4 separate regions of the Homo sapiens genome follow, and all the other regions are linked to region 4. Evidence: fine-mapped expression QTL. A gene starts in region 4. Each other region holds a variant in brackets. All regions are shown on one strand. Distances are from middle to middle.

Region 1 (5,433 bases), 30 kb before region 4:
AAACAGAAGAGTGTAGGGCATAACCCAAAGACAACATTGTTAACATTGTGTATGAGAACAGAGGGTAAAACAGCCTTGCAGCTAGTTTGTTTAAGGTACAAAAAAGTATCAACAACTTGAAAGCTTTGAGTAATGAACTTTCTTTTCATTTTTTGTTCTTTGGGTTTTTAAGTAATGAACTTTCTATATAGCCACGTTTTTCTTTGTTTGATAGTTGAGAATTAACTCTTTTAAGCCTCAAACATCAGTGCAGTCTAGTCCCATTAATGACAAAGAAATTTTCTTAGACTAATCTTCCTAATAAAAATGATAAACTCTAGGCAAAAAAGGAAAACAACTGTTGGGAAAGGAACCCAAAGTAGGCATAAAGTGAAGATATAATACTTCAAAGAAGGGAAGCAAACCAGGTGAGTTCTGCACTCACCTACCTACTACCCAGTTTGTAGCAGTGCATGATGGAACAGATTTCAAGAAAAGGCAAGAGTCTTACTGGGATGAGGGGACAGAATCTGAGAATACCAGAGAGGCGAGATCCCACGAAGGAGCCCCAATTCTGTAACAAATCCCCCTAAATCCTTGGCTAACTCCTAAATGGTAGAATGGACAGCTCAAAGAGCCCAGCAGAGAGTATCAGTTAGGAGGTTCAATATCTGAGCAGGGCTGCCTGATGCCAAGAAGAAAGAACAAGGAGTTCAAGTCCTACCAAATTAGAAAGAGATAGCAAACTTTTTCTTAAAGAGCCAGATGGTAAATATTTTAGAAGCAAAACTGAGAACATTACTTAGTACTCACTTCACCTTTTAAAAAGTAACCATTTAAAAATGTAAGGCATGTTCTTAGCTCAAGACTATAAGAACAGGCAGCAGGCCACATTTTGCCCACAGGCCATAGTTAGCTGAGCCCTACTGTAAGAGGAAGGACCATGACCCAGGGCTAAGCTATTCCCTGGAACTAAAGCCAAAATTGTAACAGACCCACCCTAAAGCCCAAAATTTAACTTCCACAGAATCTAAAAGACTCAAAGGTAATTTGAGGGCTTGTTAGAATGCAATGCAAAGCTCTTCAGAGAAAAATAACATAATCTAGACTCTCCACAACACATCATCCACAATATGAGATTATATGGAGCAGGGGGGCAAGACATGGGGAGATGATGGTCAAAGGATACAAAGCCTCAATTCAATGGTAGGAATAAGTTGTTTTTCTTAAAAAATCTATTGCACAGTATGGTAAATACAGAAAATAATAACATACTGTACATTTCAAAATTGCTGAGAATAAACTTCACCACAAAAAATAAGTATTTGAGATGATGGATATGTTCATTAGATTTTTCTGTATTGTATTTGCAAATTAAAACATCAATCTGTACCCTTATAAATATATACAACTAAAATTTATCAATTTGTAATTAAAAAATAAAAATTTATATTGAAAAGATTATATGACATGCAAAGAAACAGGACAATGTTATTCATAATCAACAGATGGAATGGTCAATTCAAAAGAGAATAAAAGAGTCAACAGAATCAAATTCAGAATTAATCTAGCTACTATAATAGCAAACAGCTATTATAAATATGTTAAAGAATTTAAAGGAAAAGATGAATAGAATGGGTAAAGAGAAGGGGAATTTCAGCAAAGAAATGTACACTTTAAATAAGAGCTAAGTGGAAAGACTACAACTAAAAAGTATAATATCTGAAACGTATAGCTCATTTGTTGGTCTTAACAGAAGAGTGGCTCAGTGGAAGAAAAAATTAGCAAAGCTGAGGACAGATCTCTGGAAATTGTCCAAATTGAAGTAGGAAAAGAAAAAAATTAAAGAACAAAACACCAGTCTGGCCAACATGGCAAAACCCTCATCTCTACAAAAAAATACAAAGAATTAGCTGGGTATGGTGAAACATGCCAGTAATCTCAGCTACTCGGGAGGCTGAGGCTGGAGGACTGCTTGAGCCTGGGAGGCAGAGATTGCAGTGAGCTGAGATTGTGCCACTTCACTTCAGCCTGGGCAACAGAGTGAGATCCTGTCTCAAACAAAACAAAACAAAAGCCCCCAGAACATCCAAGACCTGAGAGGACATATCAAATGGTCGAATACATACAGTTGGTCCTCAGTATCTGCAGTTTCCAAATCCACAGATTCAACCAACCATGAATCAAAAACATTAAAATAAATAAACAACAGTATAATAGTGAAAAATAATAAAAACTTAAAAATACAGTACAACTATTTACATAGCATTTATATTGTATTAGGTTTTTTTGTTTCCTTTTTTTTCTTTTGGAGACAGGGTCTCATCCTGTTGCCCAGTCTGCAGTGCAGTGCATGATCATAGCTCACTGCAGCCTCAGACTCTTGGGCTTAAGCAATCCTCCACCCCAGCTTCCCAAATAGCTGGGATTACATGTGCGCACCACCGCATCCAGCTAATTTTTAAATTTTTTGTACAGATGGGGTCTTGCTATGTTGCCAGGACTGGTCTTAAACTCCTGGGCTCAAGCAATCCTCTTGCCTAGACCTCCCTTTTGCTGGGATTACAGGTGTGAGCCACCACGTCCAGGCTATGTTAGGTATTATACGTAATCTAGTGATAGTTTAAAGAATAGAGGAGGATGTGACTAGGCCATATGCAAATACTATGCCATTTCATGAAAGAGACTTGAGCATCTGCAGATGTGGGTGTCATCTGGGGATTCTAGAACCAATCCCCCATAGATATGGAAGGATATAGTTAGACTCCCAGAAAAAGAAAGAGAGATGAGGCAGAAAAAGAAATTGAAGAAATAATGGCCAAAATTTTTCCAAAATTTTAAAAAAGACTTTGGACCACAGATATTAAAAATACTTAGCAATAGAATGTAAATAAACACAAGGAACACAATACCTAAATACATTATTGTCAAACTGCTGAAAACCAAAGATAAAAAGAAAATCTTAAAAGTAGACCAAGAAAAAGAAACATTACATTCAAGAGAATGAAATAAAAAATGACAGTTGGCTTCTCATCCAACATACTGGAAGCCAGAACACAATGGGCCTCTTTAAAACACTGAGAAAAACACAAAAATGATTAACTTATAATTCTGTATCTATCAAAAATATCACTAAAAAATGGAGGTAAAATAAATATTTTCAGACAAAATCTGAAAGCATTTTTCACCTGCAATTCTGAACTTCAAGAAATGCTAAAGGAAACTCTCTAGGTTGAAGGGAAATGATATTAAATGCAAACCTGGATAAATAACGAGCAGTAAACTCCAGAAAAGATAAATACGAAACACTATTCTTTCCTTAATTTCTTTAAAAGTCACTAAAGTGTTTAAGCAG[A/T]AGTAGTAACATATAGTGTAATTTACATTACATGTAATGGTAAAATATAAGAAGGCAATAGTAGGAAAAATGGGAATGGGAAAATGAAATTATACTATTGTAAGCATCTTACAGTATACATAAAGTGGTATACTATTAATTTGTAATTTATCATGTTAATTTATATATAGTGTAATCGCTAGATGAAATTAAATAGATTAAAAAGCCAACAAAAGAGCTAAAAATGGGACACTAAAAATTTATTAATCCAAAAGAAGGCAGGAAAGGAAAAAGAAAATAAAGAATAGAGGAGAAATAGAAAACAAATAGCAAGATGAGAGATTCAAACACAGCCATATCAATTATATTAATGTAAATAACTAAACATTCTAATAAAAAGGAAGAGACTGTCAAACTCTCTGTCATTTGACAGAAAACAGAAGAGCAGAGAAAATCAACACAGGCAAAGTCGTTTTCTTGAAAAGTTTAATAAACTTGATAAACCCCAGCAATGAAAAAGAAAGCTAAAAAAAGACAAATTATCAATATCAGAAATGAAAAAGGAATCATAAGTTCATATTCTACAGTCACTAAACGGATAATAAGGTGAGATTTTAAACAACTTTATGCCAACAAATTTGACACCTCAGATAAATGAACAAATTCCTTAAAAACCATAATTTTCCAAAATAAACAAGATCCAACTTCATACTGAGACACACATGTATAAGAAAGCTTATATGGCTACATTAATACCAGACAAGGTAGATTTCAAGGCAAGGGATATTAGCAGAGATAAAGACAAGCATTTCTGGTGTGGTGGCTCATGCCTATAATCCCAGCACTTTGGGAGGCCAAGGTGGGAGGATCTCTTGAGCCCAGAAGTTCAAGACCAGCCTGGGCAACATACGGAGACACCATCTCTACAAAATGAAAAATAAAAAAAAGAACACATAGCCAGGTGTGGCCAGGTGTGCCTGTGGTCGCAACTACTCAGGAGGTTGAGCTAGGAGGATCACGTGGGCCCAGGAGGTCAAGGCTGCAGTGGGCTGTGACTGTGCTCCTACGCTTCAGTCTGAGTGACAGAGCAAAACTCTGTCTCAAAAAAAAGGCAAGCATTTCACGCCAGGAGGCAATAACAATCCTAAATGTGTATGTACCTAATAATATAGCTTCCAGAAGATACATGAAGCAAAAACTGTCAAAACTTTTTTTTAAAAAAATGAGACAAATCCACAATTATAGTTGGGAGATTTAAAAATTCCTCAGTAATTAATAGAAAAGGCAAAAAAAAAAATAAGAAGAATAGAGAAGAAACAAAGAACACAATCAATTTGACCTAGTTGTCACTTGTGAAATGCTACATCCAATAACTGCAGAAAACAACCTCTTTAGTGAACACAGAACATTGAGCAGGATAGACAACACTCTGAACCGTAAAACAAGTCCTAAGAAATTCAAAAGAACTGAACTCATATAGAGTATGTTCTCAAAGTACAATGAAATTAATTAGAAATCAATTTACTGACATAACAAAAAGATAACTAGAAACCCCCTAAATATTTGGAAATTGACCAACACACCTCCAAAGAACTCAAGAGCCAAAGAAAAAATAAGAGAAATTAGAAAATATTTCAAACTGAATGAAAATGAAAGCTTGTTGAATATAACTGACTATATTCAACAATATAACTATAATCAACAATATAATTTGTTGAATATAACTAGTGCTTGGAAGAAAATTTATAGCTTTAAAAGTATTAGAAGGTTTAAAAAAAAAACTGAGTTACCAACCCAAGTAGCTAGAAAAAGATGATCAAATTAAGTCCCAAGAAGTAGAAGAAAATACTTTAAAATAAGAACAGATATCAGTGAAATAGAAAATAGAAAAGCAATAGAGAAAATCAATAGCATTGCATCAAATTATATCTAAGGCAAAAGCTGGTTTCTTGAAAAGGAAAAAATTAACTTGATGGCCAGGCAGATCACTTGAGTCCAGGAGTTTGAGACCAGCCTGGGTGACATGGCAAAACCCTGTCTCTACAAAAATTAGCTAGGTGCAGTGTCACATGCCTGTAGTCCCAGCTACTCAGGAGGCTGAGGCAGGAGAATCACTGGAG
Region 2 (5,433 bases), 92 kb before region 4:
CCCTCAGGTGGGGCTTACCCCCTCGTATTTATAATCTTAATTTATATAGTGACCACCGTGGAAACAAACGCCTCTTGTATTGTCATGTACATAGTCCATACCTGAGTGCTGTACATAAGTTGTTCTGTGTATAAATAAAACAAGCCTGTTTTTGATCTTCCATCGCCAGAGTCTTTGTCATCATTCCTTGTGCTTTGACATAAAGTGTTGGTTGCCGGAATCTTTCCAAACTGGATTCAGAATTGTTTTTCACCTGCTCTGAAAATAGGTTGAGTTGTTGGTGGCTAAAAAGCAAAACAGAATGCCATTAGCATGCCATCAGAATGCCGTTAGAATGCCATTAGAATGCTGTTGTATTTTTTAGGGTGTGGGTTCTGTGATCAGTTGGACTAAAAATTCCGCAAGGAGAGAGAGGGTACTGGGCAGTGCTGAGGCTCTCAGGTGTGACCACACAGCCTTGGCCCGGGAGAATGAGGGCCATTTTAACGAATATTTTAACCCTCTTAAATCTTTTCTATAAAACTGCAAACCTGAAGCTCTCCGACTTCTCTGCTTTGTCTTGGTACTTTTATTTCCAAGGGAACTGTCTACGATCAAGGCCACTTGAATTGTCTTCCCCAGTTTCCTGGAGTGAGGGATGGGGACTGCATTCATGGAAGACACCATCAGGCTGGTCGGGTACAGAAGGGCTGCATGTGCTCCGGGAGTGTTGGCTGCCTCCCTAGCAGCTCTTCCTCACTCCTTCCATGGTAACAAACCCCCCCGTTTTTTTTTTTCTGGTGTATATTCTCCTCTCTGGCCATTCAGGACTTCAGGCCTCATGGTTGCAAGATGGCCACCACAGCTCCAGGCATCACACCAGTGTAAGGTGTTTGGGGACAAATGGCTGCCTCTTTTATGTGTCACCTGCTCTTTTTGTTGTTGTTGTTGAAGATGAGGTCTTGCTCTGTCTTCTGGTCTGGAGTACTGTGGCATAATCGTAGATCACTGCAGCCTCCAAATCCTGGACTCAAGTGATCCTCCCACCTCAGCCTCCCTTGTAGCGGAGAGTACAGGTGCATGACAACATACCCAGCTAGTTTGTAAAATTTTTTGTAGAGACTGGGTCTCGCTTGCTTCCTAGGCTGGTTTTGAACTCCTGGCGTTAAGCGATCCTATGTGTGTCTCTTTTTAAGATAAAGGGAGCCCTTTCCGAAGCTCTGGCTTCAGCCGACCTCCTCTAATGTCTTGGCTAGAACTGCCTCACGCACTCATGACTAAACCAATCAGTGCGAAGGGTACGAGCTATTACGGTGATCGGGATGCTGACGGCTGACACTTTATAATTTGTGCCAGGTGTTGGTCTAAGTACCTTGAATGTACGAACTCCTCTAATTCCCCTCACAGCCTTACATGGTGGGTTATCTGCATTTTACAGGCGAGGGACAGGCTCAGAGAGGCGACACAACTTGCCCCATGAGGCACAGCCAGCGCGTGGCTGACATGGGAGGCAGAGGGCATATCTTTTCGACAGCCGTGCTCTCCCGTGTCCCAAGCCTCATAGCAAGCCCAGCCCACAAGACAGGTGAGGAAATTGGGCCCAAGTGACAGGCATGCTTTCCAGCACAGCAGCCGGGGCGCCTCACGTGCTGGGGGCACCAGATGCCCGGGCAGGGGCAGACCTGGGGGGAGGCTGGTGTGCGCTTTGCCAGCCTCACTCCTGTGCCCGCGTGGCTCATCTCACACGGGGCATGGCTCCATTGTGTGGGAAAGCAGTGAGGAGGGGGCTTCTCACAGAGACAGCATCTGACAGCGTGGGGAGGCCGGGCAGCGATCTAGAGTGGACGGGGCTGCAAGTGTAGCATGATCGCGAGACGGGACAGTAGAGTTGAGTGGAGAAAATGCAGCAGGGTCTATACTGTTTTTAAACTGATCCTCTTCAGAATTCCCCAACCACTTAGAAAAACAAACTGGGTGCTTGGTCCAGTAATGTTAACTGAACCCTGGATTTGTGGCCTCTGTTGTTTGCCAGAAGAGTTTTGCTGTGGTCCCCCCACCCCTTTGTGCCCTGGCTCCAGGTGGGCTCACGCGCGTTCCTTGGCTGTAGGTTACTGGACCCCACCCAGAGCTCTTAGACCTGGGCTAGGAGTGGGTGCAACTCGGAGTCGCCCCTCTGGGGTGGGGGCGGTGTGGCTGGGAGGGAGGTGCAACAGCCACACCAACACGAGGGTGCTGCCATCTTTGAAGCACATGCGTGTGAAGGACATGGGCACCTGGAAGCTCTGGGCAATGCACCTTCCCCTCTCCCCCGACTGTCATTCCATGGAGCCCACGGACATCACCCACTTAGGGCCCAGGGCTTTCACTGGTTTGTAGAAAGAGGCACTTGGTGGCTGCCTCGTGTGATGGAGCTGCTGGTGGCGTCTCGGCACCTGGGGAGGTGCCTGCGGAGACAGAACCACCTCAGAGCAGCACACTGGGGCGTGGCAGAGGCACCACTGTCCCCTGAGCACTCGTCTGGCCCCGCCCCAGCCTGGTGTGAGCTCATTGGTGGTCTCTTGTTTCCTGAGCCGGGAGATTGCCGTGTCTGCTCCTGCCACCCCAAGTCGGGGCAAGGACCTGCAGATGAAGGGCCCTGTCTGCCACACTCTGCAGCCATTGCCACAGGGACCTGGACGCATGGCAGCACGTGGGCGTGTGTGGTGGGAGTGGGGGAGGGCAGCGGCCAGAGGGAGCTGGAAGCAGTCTCTCTTTACTTGGATACTGAGGTCACCGCTTCACCCAGAATG[CGTTT/C]GTTATGGATTTTATTGAACCCTGGTATGGCCATGCTTTGGGTGGGTGCGTTATCCAGAACAGAACAGAATGATGGACCTGTAGGGTGAAGGGGCTGTTGTAAGTTGGTCCCTCACTGTTAAGTCTGTTCTGCAGGTTAAACTCACATCGATGGCGCCAAAATGATTTGCAAGGGAATTCTTGCCCCTCCCTTTTTTGGCTAGAAAAAGTCACTGTTGAATAAGTATGTTTTCTGTGACGACACCACCATTACGTATTTCCATAGAAGGAAAATAAAACCAGATTGATTACATCCAGTTTCTTCCAGTGCATTTTTCCCATGAGTCTGAACTTTTTAAAACCAAAGCAAACTTGTTATTTCTAAAGCAGCACTGCTGCAGTATTTCTAAATATAAACTGTTTATTTAGCATCTGAAGCAGGCTTGGGAAAAAGGGCCACAAACGTTCCTTATTTTATTTATGTATTTTTTTTGAGACGGAGTCTCGCTCTGTCACCCAGGCTGGAGTGCAGTGGCACGATCTTGGCGCACTGCAACCTCTGCTTCCTGGGTTCAGACGATTCTCCTGCCTCAGCCTCCCGAGTGGCTGGGACTACAGGCGCCCGCCACCATGCCCAGATAATTTTTTGTACTTTTAGGAGAGACAGGGTTTCACCATGTCAGCCAGGCTGGTTTTACACTCCTGACCTCAAATGATCCACCCGCCTTGGCCTCCCAAAGTGCTGGGATTACAGGCGTGAGCCACCGCGCCCGGCCAAAAGTTCCTCTCTTAAGCAAGCTGGGCACGAAGTAGCCGGCAACCAAAAGCAGCTAAGGGCTACAACTTTAAAAAATGGTTTATTTTTTTCTTTAACAAAATCGTACAGCTTTCTCAATCCCCAAATTAAAAAAACAGAAAACAGGAAGAAAGGGAAGAAGGCAAAGGCCACACGCACAGGCCGGCCCGGCCGCACGCGCCTGCTGGACGGCACTTCAGGGCACAACCCACACGCGTCTTTGGACTTGCAGACATTCCGCGAGGCTTCTGGCCTCTCGAAGGCAAAGCTTTTCAGCGATTTCATTAATATTTCATTACGCTGAGATGAGATGAAGGCAGATGCTACAGAAATATGTCAGTTAAAGCCACAGAAACAGAACAGCTTAAGAAGGGCTGGGCGCCCAGCTCGTCACGACACTTACAGCTCTGGCGTCATCAGAAGCCTCTATCATCTCCCTCTGCAAAGACGCAGTCTACACCCAGTGCGAGTCTCCTGAGCGGGGTTAGTGTTTGGGAGTGGGAGGCAGCTGCTAGTCAGAGTTGGGTCCTTAGGGCGCAGTGCTTCACGGAAACGCACAGACGTCTATGGCAGACGCTCTCAGACACGTGTGCAGAAGCGACGTGGCTTCTGTCTGGTAGGGGTTTGGACTGTTGGGAGGAGTATGAGGGACAAAGCAGGCCGCTGGCTCAGCATCAGCTTGTTGGAAAAGGGTCACAGGCAGGGGAGCGCCTGACTCCAGCGGTGTCCTTTCTGCCCTCACACTTCAGTGCTGCTTCCCATCAGTGACGGGGCTGACGAGAAACCGTGAGGCCCAGGTGACAAGCAGGCTCAGGACATGCGACACCGTCTTCGGGATGCTGCTTTCCGCTAAGCTGCTGTCTGGGAAAGTCAACCGTCTATGTCCCAAATCAATCAACTCAGTGACACAGGTACTATTATTTCTCACAAATGCCAATTAAATCCTTTAAGTTGAATAGAAATCTGGGTTGGATTAAGTGGGAAAACCCTTCCTTAGTTTACATTTTCTTTTTCTCAGGTGTTTTCATTGAGGCTACTCAGGAAACCGGTCAGGCTGCCCAGGACACCTGGAACCTGGGCTATGCCAGGCCTGTCTGCCACAGCCCTGCCTGCCCCGCTTCCACACAGGAAGAGAGGCTGAGGCGCTGTGGACGGCAGCAGCTGCAGTCCTCGGGATCCAAGGACCTTCTGATCACAGAGCACCCAGGATAAGCTGGACCCTTGGCCTGCGGGCTGACGTGCAGCGGCTGCCCTTGCTTAGCAGAGCGACTCACCCTCGGAGGCCACCCTGTGTGGCTCCTCCTCGTGGAAAGAGCTCGCACTTTTCAGCATCGCAGTTTTAACTCAGACCAAAGGGCAGACGTGGAGCATGCGGGGCCGGAACGAGTGGGGGAAATGAAGTCCTGAAAGCAGACCCCACTTCTGCCCGCTTCTGCTCAGCACCAGCGCGGTGGCGCAGTGGCCTGAGACACTGTGAGAAGCCGGTCAGGGCGAACGAGAGTCATCTGAACACGGAGGAAAGTGGCTGGCCTGACCCCACACACCTCCCACAGCGGAGCAACGGCATGCCGCTGCCTCCATACCTGCGGTTCACGCACACGTTGTGCATTTTCTGGTTAAAAGAAAAAAAAAGGCAGCTGGGGCCGGGTGCTGTGTGAGAGAGCCCAGCACCTACTGGCAGCTGGGTGGGCGACATCCAGAGCTGCACCAGCCCCCGTGGCTGCCACGTGTTGCAGAGCTAAGTGACTACATGCACTGGCCAGGCCTCAGAGGAGCCGTCCCTGTGCTCAAAGGAAGCAGAGGATTTGGGATTGGAGGCGCCAGGCAGCCAGTCCCCATGCCCAGGAAACCCACGTTTGTGGCATCAGCCGGAGAGTTCATCGGGA
Region 3 (5,433 bases), 180 kb before region 4:
AAGGGTCACAGAGACAGCCGCGTTACAGCTGGATATCTCTCTCTCAGAAAGGCGGAGGGAATCACGGGGCTATGAATTTCATCTTCTTATTATTAAATAATTTTTATTCTTTAAGTATATTGAAGTTCTTTTTTTTTTTTTTTTTTTTTTTGAGAGGGAGTCTTGCTTTGTCGTCCAGGCTGGAGTGCAGTGGCGAGATCTCGGCTCATTACAACCTCCGCCTCCTGGGTTCAAGCAATTCTCCTGCCTCAGCCTCCCAAGTAGCTGGGATTACAGGTGCCTGCAACCACGCCTGGCTAAAATTTTTATATTTGAGTAGAGATGGGGTTTCACTATGTAGGTCAAGCTGGTCTCGAACTCCTGACCTCAAATGATCTGCCTGCCTCTGCCTCCCAAAGTGCTGGGATTACAGGCATGAGCCACCGTGCCCGGCCTAGAGATGGGGTTTCACCACATTGCCCAGGCTGGTCTTGAACTCCTGACCTCAAGTAATCTGCCCGCCTTGGCCTCCCAAGGTGCTGGGATTACAGGCATGAGCCACTGTGCCCAGCCAAAGTAGAAGGAGCTGAGCTTCTTGATGTGTGAACAGAAATGGGAAATTCTTTATTTTTAGGCTTTCTAGCAATTAACCTTGTTTCTGTGTGCCCTATTGTAGGTAGATTTAAAGCTAGAAGCACCAGGTGGGTGCTGCTGGAGGAGGAGCAGCCAGTGAAAGTCACAGATTACTGCCATGTTTAAGCGGATGTGGTGTTAGACATTCAGACACCAGTGTGTTGGCTGGGATTCTGAATACCTGTGTTTTTTATCAGGATTGGTGTCAGTACTAATATTTTGGTATTTAAGAAATCTGGAGTCTGAATAATTTACATTTTGAGACATATCCCTAGAAAGTTACTGCATTAAAATTTGAAATGGAACAAAGCAGCTTGTTTAGAAAGGGTTCTGACCACTTCCCTCAATTAAAAAAAAAAAAAAACACGACAAAATAACCTTTTACAGTTAGTTCTGGTGGTGCGGGGAGGGGAAAGGTTACTTAAAAGATTGAGTTTCTTTTCTGAGTTATTAGTTTGATTTTCTCCAGGGTTCCTCATAGAGCCATCGTAGAATAGAGGGGATGGTATAAGGGAAACAGGAGGCAGGGGCTGTGCCGGGGGACCCTGTAGGGAGTGGAGAGGGAGACGGGGGAGGTCCCCAGGCCTGACTCCCAGCCCTGCCCTGGAGCATCTTTCTCTCCAGGACCAGGATCCTTCTGCTCTACTCCCTTGTTTCCTTTCACGGCCAGACCCTTTCCATTTGGACCTGTCTCTCTTCTCCAGAAGAATTTGTTTTAGCCAGGACCTTCCCCCTCCATGTGCTCGCTGGAGGAACAAGCCAGGAGGACACGGAATCCTCAGTCCAGACCCCGGCCTTCCCTCAGCTAAAACACTGTGTGAGAACATACTTCACATGTAAAAGTGAATACTGGTATTGACAGTAGTAAATACAGAAATACCAGCATTGGGTTGTTTGCTTTGGTTCTCTCTCTTTCTTCCTTCACTAATGCAATGACAATGTTTGTAGATTTTTTTAAAAAAATCATGGCACTATACCTGTGAGCCCGAGCTTTTGGTTAGAAGCAGGTGGGTGGGTTAATTTGGATTGGCTTATTGATTGGATGCTACAGTTTCAAGGTACTGGGGCTTCTGTGGGTGCTTGTTAGGGATCATTGGGGTGTGGTGGGCAGCGCTGGCTAGTGCTTAGGGATGTACCTGTCTTTATGTGCCTTAGTCCCTGTGTTTGTCTCTTTCTAGTCAATCATATTTGATGAGGTGGATCTGACAGATGCCAGCGTAGCTGAATCCAGTACCAAAAACGTCAACAACAGTTTTACGGTAAGATTCCTCAGTCATGCCTTTCTTGATTCTTCACTGAAGTTGGCTTTCCTTTTTGATCTGAACATGTGTCCAAGCAGTTCAAACGTTTTCATTCTTTTCTTACTGATTGGAATGATTGCTGGTAAAATTTGAATTTAATGCTGAAAGTAATACTGTGGTTGGAGAATAACCAAGAATTTGGCATGCATAAGCACAAAAGGACAATAGGGACCAAATGAAAAATTTTTATATGTGTTTTGGTTCACGTCTGTTTTGTTTTTTTTGAGACGGAGTTTGGCTCTTGTTGCCCAGGCTGGAGTGCAATGGCGTGATCTCCAGCTCACAGCAACTTCCGCCTCCCGAGTTCAAGCGATTCTCCTGCCTCAGCCTCCCGAGTAGCTGGGATTACAGGCATGTGCCACCACACCTGGCTAATTTTGTATTTTTAGTAGAGACAGGGTTTCTCCGTGTTGGTCAGGGTGGTCTCGAACTCCCAACCTCAGGTGATCCACCCTCCTTGGCCTCCCAAAATCCTGGGATTACAGGTGTGAGCCACCACGCTTTGCTGGTTCACATCTTACTACCTCTGTACAGAGTTTTGTTTTTTGTGATTAATGTAGAAAATTTGGAAAATGCAGACAAGTATGTTAAAGCAATTAAAAAGCAGCCATAACAGCCACCTCAAAAAACATTGAATGTTAATATTTTGGTGTATTTCTTTTTTTTTTCCTTTTTTATGTTTAAACTTTCTTCCTTCCAAATTTATAAAAGTTATGTAGGACTTTCTGCAAAAGTTCTAAATGCACAGAATCATGTGATCTCACCACTTGGAAGTGGCCAGCTGCTTACTCTACAGTGTTTATCTTTATTTCTGTATATTTATGTCTTTACCTACATGTACCCATGAGATCATGCTGAACCTTTTGGTTTACACCTGTGTTTTTTTCCCCCCCCAGGACAATTTATAGTAGAGAGTTGCTCATGTCAGCTGATCTAAATGTTCATGATATTATTTAATGGCTATAGTAGCATTTTCTTGTAGGATTTTATAATTTAGGCTTTACGGGCTGACTTTAGCGCCTGCCTGTGTAAGGTTTGACTCTAATAACAGCACTAGAACTTTTAAAGCTGTTTTTCTTT[A/G]TGTTATTAGGCCATCCCATGTAGACAAAAAGTGTGTACCCTAATTAAAAAAATTATTCTTTTATAATTCAGTCAAGGTGAGTAATTTTCCTCAAGTTTAGGATCTGATATTTTGGGTTAGTGCTAGTTTCAGGTGCTTTCAAGTTTTGTTTTATTTTATTTATTGATGGATTCATTGTTGATGTTGCCAATACAAATGGGATTTTCCTTTCTCTGTCTAAACCTCTGCTTATTTTGTGTTGATTAACTGCTCTTATTTTACTTGGAGTATTTGTAGTTTTCTCTATTAATTTATTTTTACCAGCTGGGAAGAGACATTTTTAACCACATAAATAGATTTTTCTTTGATTCGTGGTTTTTAGAGTCTTTAATAGGAGTAGGTGTTGAATTTCTTTGGAGTGTTCTGAGCATCAGTTGATTAATTAATGAATTTTTTTGAGATGTTGTCTCCCTTTGTCACCCAGGCTGAAGTGCGGTGGTGTGATCTCGGCTCACTGCAACCTCCGTCTCCCAGGTTCAAGGGATCCTCATGCCTCAGCCTCCCTAGTAGCTGGGATTATAGTCGTGCACCGTTATGCCCAGATAATCTTCGTAATTTTAGTAGAGATGGGGTTTCACCATATTGGCCAGGCTGGTCTCAAACTCCTGGCCTGGAGTGATCTACCCGCCTGAACCTTCCAAAGTACTGGGATTACAGGCATGAGCCACTGTGCCTGGCCCTGGGCATTAATTTAGATGTTCATTTTGGTTTCAGTTATTTGCATATTTCCTAATAAAAAAATTATTCTTGGTAATGTTGAATTTTACTCCTTTATCTTGCAATTTAGAATTTTCCCACTGGTATGTATGCATTTGTTTTGGGTGAGAATGTAGCCTTATTGCAGTTTTAAACAATTGTTTTTTCTGTTTTTAATTTTAATGGATACATAATAGTTGGACATACTGTGTTTTGATTTCAGAGTTAAACCAACCCCATAAAATTCATTTAGTAACTTTCTATGAGTTTATGTTTTCTGCAACATTTTATGTAGCTTTGGGATTGGTTGTTTCTTAAGTTCGAGAGAATTTATTTTAAATTATTTGTCAAGAAGACTTTTTAGGGAGATAAGGCTGTAATAGAAATAAATCCTAAAATATTTATTTCTTGCATTTTGATCATTTTTTGAACCTTTTCACTTTTTGAGTCCACATCTGTAATTTACTTTCCCACAAATTTCACACCTTCAAAGTTAGTAGCGTGTACTGTTGTGTAGTTTAAACACCTGTGTCTCTGGTTGAATCTCCTTTGCATTTCTAATTTTATTAGTTTAGTTTGCTTTTCTTGTCAGATTTCGTAAACTCTAGCATTTTTGTTTTCTTTGTTTTTAAAGAGAACTAGTTCTTAGATTATTGAACAATTCTCCTTTTCTGTTTCCTTTTTTATTTTTTTGAGACGGAATCTTGCTCTGTTGCCCAGGCTGGAAGGCTGGAGTGCAATGACGTGATCTTGGCTCACTGCAACCTCCACCTCCTGTGTTCAAGCGATTCTTCTGCCTCAGCCTCCTGAGTAGCTGGGATTGCAGGCACCTGCCACCACGCCCAGCTAATGTTTTTATATTTTCAGTTAGAGACGGGGTTTCGCCATGTTGGCCAGGCTGTTCTCAAACTCCTGACCTTGAGTGATCTGCCTGCCTCAGCTTCCCAAAGTGCTGGGATTACAGGTGTGAGCCACCACGCCTGGCCTGTTTCCTTTTTTTTTTTTTTTTTTTTGAGACAGGGTCTTGCTCTGTTGCCCAGGCTGCAGTATAGTGCTGTGATCTCGGCTCATGGCAACCTCTTCTTCCTGGGTTAAAGTGATTCTCCTGCTTCAGCCTCCTGAGTAGCTGGGATTACAGGTGTGTCCCACCACGCCTGGCTGATTTTTGTATTTTTAGTTAGAGATGGGTTTTCGCCATGTTGTCTAGGCTGGTCTTGACCTCCTGACCTCAAGTGATCCTCCTGCCTCAGCCTTCCAAAGTGCTGGGATTACAGGTGTAAGGCACCATGCTGGGCCCTACTTTCCTGTTTTCTAATTCAGTGTCTGTATTTATGTGTATTGGTTTTTTTTTTTTTTTTTTTAGATGGAGTCTTGCTCCGTTGCCCAGGGGGGAGTGTAGTGGTGTGGTCTCGGCTCTCTGCAGCCTCCGCCTCCTGGGTTCCAGTGATTCTCCTGCCTCAGCCTTGGGTAGCTGGGATTACAGACACATGCCACCATGCCCAGCTAATTTTTTTATTTTTAGTGGAGACAGGGTTTCACCGTGTTGGCTAGGCTGGTCTCGAACTCCTGACCTCAGTGCCCACCTTGGCCACCCAAAATGCTGGGATTACAGGTGTGAGCCACCTTGCCCGGCTGTGTATTAGTTTTTATCTGTTGTAACTTACGAAATATGTTGTTCAAGTCCTCTTATGATCTTGTTTTTTA
Region 4 (5,433 bases):
TAATGTTCACACTGAGCTCACGGGAACACAGCTCCTAGGACCCTTGTGGAGGAAGCTGGTTTGCAGAGATGGGGTATGGGAGAAATATATAGAGAGAAACAGGGGCAAGAAATCAAGGGTCCAGTAAGGTCAGGCTGGCTTCCTGCAGTTGATTTCTGAGATCCCCTATATTCTTACAATAACCCCCCTTTTAAATTTAGCTAATTTGGGTGGTGGGTCTGTTTCTTGCACACAATCCCTTACCTAAAATCTCTGGGTCTTTGGAATTCAGAATTTCCAGAGTTTATAAAGATAATATGAAAAAAGTGTTTTTTATATATATATAAAATGTTACATTCCCAGCAGGGTCTGGGCCAGCTTCCATTAATCAAGCAGATTAATATTCCTGTAATGAATGTATGAACATTCACCCACATGAGATAACTAAAAACTGTAAATAGCCTCACACCAGGTCTGGTTCTGAAGCCAAACAAGCTCAGGTGAGATCAGATGAGGGTGTGAGCTTTCCAGATTTCAGAAATGCGTATGAACAACTGTGCACCCATATAAATAATATGACACCCTTCCCCACTCCAAAAGGTAGATATAATTGGTTGGATAACTCTGGCTTAAGTGTTTGTTATTCTAGAGAAATCTTAAAACTCAAACAGTGTAACAATAATGAAGACTGATACTTATGACAATTGTCTTTACGTTGTACTTTAAATTACAGGAATTAAAAAAGAAATATATTGCTTTATTTTTTTACTAAACATTATTGTCATCACCCAGGATATATTTAAGATTAAGCTTCACATTTCTCTGCAGAGGGAATTACCAATTTATATCTTATATGTGCAACAATAAACACATACTGTAGAATATATCTTTAAGATAATTGGTCTATTTGTGATTTTGCATAATTAATTACATGTAAAGAAGATGGTACATATTGCTAGTTAAATGTACGTAACATAGCATACCTCTGAATTCAGGTGTGAAATGAAGAGTCTGAAGAAGGGAATTGAGGTAACAGGTTCCACCCTGATTTCTGATTCCGCTTAAATTGGTGAATTCTCTAGGAGCAGGTGGCTCCAAAGCTTTAGTCTTTAATTTCTTCCCTTTTCCATACTGATTATTAGACACAGTGGAATACTCCTCTTCAAACAGGTCCCCAAACATTGTGAAACTAAATACTACCCTTAAAAAAAGTGACATATAAATGCTTTTATTTTTAAAATAAATTTTCCCCAAATCCCCCTACCTTACACTTGGGAGTCGATTCTGTTGTTTCTTAGAACACAGGACTACTGTTTCTATGTACAGTAGTTGGGTTTTGGAGGCAGCAAGATCTAGATTTTTTTCATCCCTATCAGGACCCTAACTACCTGTGTGACCCTGGATATGTTAATCTGTTTTCTTATGTGTAAAATAGGATACCATCTGTCTCTTCGGGTCATTTAAACTATCCAATGACATAACGAAAGAAGGGCAGTTAGTGTACAGGGTTTGGCCCACAATAAGTAACAGCTGTTTTTAAAAAGGCACGTTCACATCACTAATTTTTTTAAAAAAGAAAACCTGTTGCCACAACTAATCCACTGCTGGGACGGCAAAGCCAACCCTAAATTCTGAGAATCAACTCTCTAAAATCTCTGCTTGTCACACCCTTCAGTACTATATACCAGATTATGACATTTAAATTAAACAGATCAAGTTAACTTTTTTTAGAGCACTTTAGTACAGTCCCGAAGCTGTTGGGCCGGAAGTCAGTTCACTGGGGAGGGAGGGGGGAAGGGGAGCGGAGGGCGGGGAAGACTGCCACTAAAATTATCAAGCCTAAAGGCCTTCCAGTATGTATCCACTAATCCCATCGTTAGCCCTGGGGGCCTAGGTGACTTCCCCAAGGTTTCACATCGAGTGTGGCGGAGGGTCACTTGGAGATGAGAAACGTAAAGCGCCTAGCATAGGTACCAAATGACAGGAAGCGCTGAAATGCAATTATTTTTCTTTTCCTCAGAAGAAAACTAAAAAAACACAACTCGAGAGTCTAGCCTCGAGCTCGTTGTCTGCATTCCTGAATTCCCAACTCCTACGGCCGGCCGAGGCCCTCCAAGCCACCACAGGCCCAGGGGCGCAAAAAGGCAGAGGTCCCCGTGGCCCGAAACCACTGCCCCGACTCCAGGAGAGCGCCGCGTCCTCAGGCAGGCCTGGGCAGCCTCTCGCCTCGCCCTCCTCAGACTGGGCCACCAACACTGTCCCTACGCTTCCCACGTCCCTCCCAGGATCCCCGGGCGCCAGCCGCACTTACTGCCTAAAGCCCAGACCCCCGCCCTGGCCAAAACGCGAAGCGAACGAACCCGCCCCAACTGGGCGCCGCCATGTTGGCGAGGGCGGGTCTCCAGAAAGTGATTTATGGATCGTGGACTATGCTTCCCAGGATGCCCCGCTGGAGCGCCGGCCCCTCGCACGGGGCCTTATGGGAAATGTAACTCTTCTGCTCCAAGAGTTTGGGAACTGGAGCGGGAGCGGGAGCGGGCAAGGTGAGCTCGCTTACAAGTCCGCTGGTGAGTTCGCGGGTCCACTCGGCCAGCGGACCACTCATTCGTTCACATTTATAAGATTATAGCTATATGATCTTATATAAGATTATAGCTATATGATCTTATATAAGATTATAGCTATATGATCTTATATAAGATTATAGCTATATGATCCTTATATAAGATTATAGCTATATGATCTTATATAAGATTATAGCTATATGATCTTATATAAGATTATAGCTATATGATCTTATATAAGATTATAGCTATATGATCTTATATAAGATTATAGCTATATGATCTTATATAAGATTATAGCTATATGATCTTATATAAGAGTATAGCTATATGATCTTATATAAGAGTATAGCTATATGATCTTATATAAGAGTATAGCTATATTATAGCTATATAACCTTATATAAGATTATAGCTATATAACCTTATATAAGATTATAGCTATATAACCTTATATAAGATTATAGCTATATAACCTTATATAAGATTATAGCTATATAACCTTATATAAGATTATAGCTATATAACCTTATATAAGATTATAGCTATATAACCTTATATAAGATTATAGCTATATAACCTTATATAAGATTATAGCTATATAACCTTATATAAGATTATAGCTATATAACCTTATATAAGATTATAGCTATATAACCTTATATAAGATTATAGCTATATAACCTTATATAAGATTATAGCTATATAACCTTATATAAGATTATAGCTATATAACCTTATATAAGATTATAGCTATATAACCTTATATAAGATTATAGTTATATAACCTTATATAAGATTATAGTTATATAACCTTATATAAGATTATAGTTATATAACCTTATATAAGATTAGTTATATAACCTTATATAAGATTATAGTTATATAACCTTATATAAGATTATAGTTATATAACCTTATATAAGATTATAGTTATATAACCTTATATAAGATTATAGTTATATAACCTTATATAAGATTATAGTTATATAACCTTATATAAGATTATAGTTATATAACCTTATATAAGATTATAGTTATATAACCTTATATAAGATTATAGTTATATAACCTTATATAAGATTATAGTTATATAACCTTATATAAGATTATAGTTATATAACCTTATATAAGATTATAGTTATATAACCTTATATAAGATTATAGTTATATAACCTTATATAAGATTATAGTTATATAACCTTATATAAGATTATAGTTATATAACCTTATATAAGATTATAGTTATATAACCTTATATAAGATTATAGTTATATAACCTTATATAAGATTATAGTTATATAACCTTATATAAGATTATAGTTATATAACCTTATATAAGATTATAGTTATATAACCTTATATAAGATTATAGTTATATAACCTTATATAAGATTATAGTTATATAACCTTATATAAGATTATAGTTATATAACCTTATATAAGATTATAGTTATATAACCTTATATAAGATTATAGTTATATAACCTTATATAAGATTATAGTTATATAACCTTATATAAGATTATAGTTATATAACCTTATATAAGATTATAGTTATATAATCTTATAAATATGAATGAATGAGTGGTCACATTTATAAAGATATAAGATTATATTTATATAATCTTATATCTTTGTCTTTCGTCTGTGAATCAAACTAATGGCATGTCAAAGTATTGTCTGGACAATCCTTTCATTCCATAGCTTCCTCTCCTCCTATCAGATCCCCATGAAATCTCACCTGCATTAGGATGATAGCCTTTTCAGTGGACTCCCGTTTTACACACCCCTTCCTGCACGTCACTATAAGATGCACTATCCATCTAAGGTGCACTTTGAGCTCAAACCTCTCTGCTAAAGAAGCTTCCACGATTTCTCAACATCCACTGTGGAAATTCTTTATTTTGATTCTTAGTTCGCTGATGGTCCCAACATTCTTTTCATACTGTATTTCTCACTACACACCTATTTACCAAAGTGCTTTCAAATGTGCCATCTATAAAGCTGCTAATCCCTGAGCCTTTAAGGGAAAAGATAAACACCAGCTGCAAGTCTTTTTGTTTTATGATAAAAAGCCCTGTACAACGAAAACACTTTTTCTGGTTTGGTTCCATGAAAACCAATGCTCTGTCCCTGAAGTCAGGAAGTACCTTGCCAGTAAGGGACTTCCTTTTAAATTGCTTTTGATATTGGACAATGTCCCTGGCCACCCAGAACCCCATAGATTCTGCAATGAGAGCACCAAAGTGGCCTCCTTGCCCCTAAACACAACATGTCTAATTCAGCCCTTAGATCAAGGGGTCATAAGGAACTTTAAGGCTCATTACGTACGGTTTTCTATGGAAAGGGGTGTCAACACTATGGAAGAGAATCTCAACAGGGAGAATATCGTGAAAGTCCAGAAGGATTACACCATTGAAGAAGCCCATGTTGTTACAGAAAAAGCTGTGAAAGCCATCAAGCCCCAAACAATACATTAGTGCTGAAGAAAACTGCGTCCAGATTCCAGATGTTGTGTGTGAGTTCACAGGATTTACAACAGCCTATCAAGGAAGTCATGGAAGAGATTGTGGATATGGCACCAAAAAAAAAAAAAAGAGGCATAAAGTGTTTGAAGATCTAGATCTTGGGGAAATTCAAGAGTTAATAGATACCACATCTGAGGAATTAACAGAAGATGACTTGATGGAGATGAGTGCTTTTGAATCAGTACCAGAGAATGAGGAAGAAGATATAGAAGAAGCACTGTCAGAAAATGAATTGACATTAGACAATCTTGCAGAAGGGTTCTGATTATTTAAGACTGCTTTTGACTTCTTTTACAACTTGGACCCTTCTATGATACGGGCATTGAAACTAAAGCAAATAGTAGAAGAAGGATTAGTAC

What was found. PIP is the estimated chance that this variant, and not a neighbour inherited with it, causes the effect. A credible set is the group of variants that fine-mapping cannot tell apart.
Region 1: its variant is the best candidate, but not a certain one, in a credible set for the expression of USP40 in lymphoblastoid cells (GEUVADIS, PIP 0.75).
Region 2: its variant is the best candidate, but not a certain one, in a credible set for the expression of USP40 in whole blood (TOPMed, PIP 0.51).
Region 3: its variant is the best candidate, but not a certain one, in a credible set for the expression of USP40 in cerebellar hemisphere (GTEx, PIP 0.89).

Annotation. Positions count from the first base shown.
Region 1 is chr2:233,534,614-233,540,046 of GRCh38, forward strand. The region is part of intron 10 of USP40 (ubiquitin specific peptidase 40); the gene reads right to left. Among named protein-coding and RNA genes, the nearest start is that of USP40, 29 kb to the right of the region's middle. The variant A/T (reference allele first, on the strand shown) is at 3,335.
Region 2 is chr2:233,471,937-233,477,369 of GRCh38, forward strand. It overlaps USP40 (ubiquitin specific peptidase 40), which reads right to left. Exons shown (of 32, transcript NM_001365479.2): 32 at 3,590-5,433. DGKD (diacylglycerol kinase delta) reads left to right here. Exons shown (of 30, transcript NM_152879.3): 30 at 1-162. Among named protein-coding and RNA genes, the nearest start is that of USP40, 92 kb to the right of the region's middle. RefSeq lists an enhancer at 1,921-2,520. The variant CGTTT/C (reference allele first, on the strand shown) is at 2,769.
Region 3 is chr2:233,388,613-233,394,045 of GRCh38, forward strand. It overlaps DGKD (diacylglycerol kinase delta), which reads left to right. Exons shown (of 30, transcript NM_152879.3): 3 at 1,791-1,871. Among named protein-coding and RNA genes, the nearest start is that of DGKD, 37 kb to the left of the region's middle. The variant A/G (reference allele first, on the strand shown) is at 2,994.
Region 4 is chr2:233,564,394-233,569,826 of GRCh38, forward strand. USP40 (ubiquitin specific peptidase 40) reads right to left here and starts at 2,389. Exons shown (of 32, transcript NM_001365479.2): 1 at 2,291-2,389; 2 at 963-1,180. The coding sequence starts at 1,161.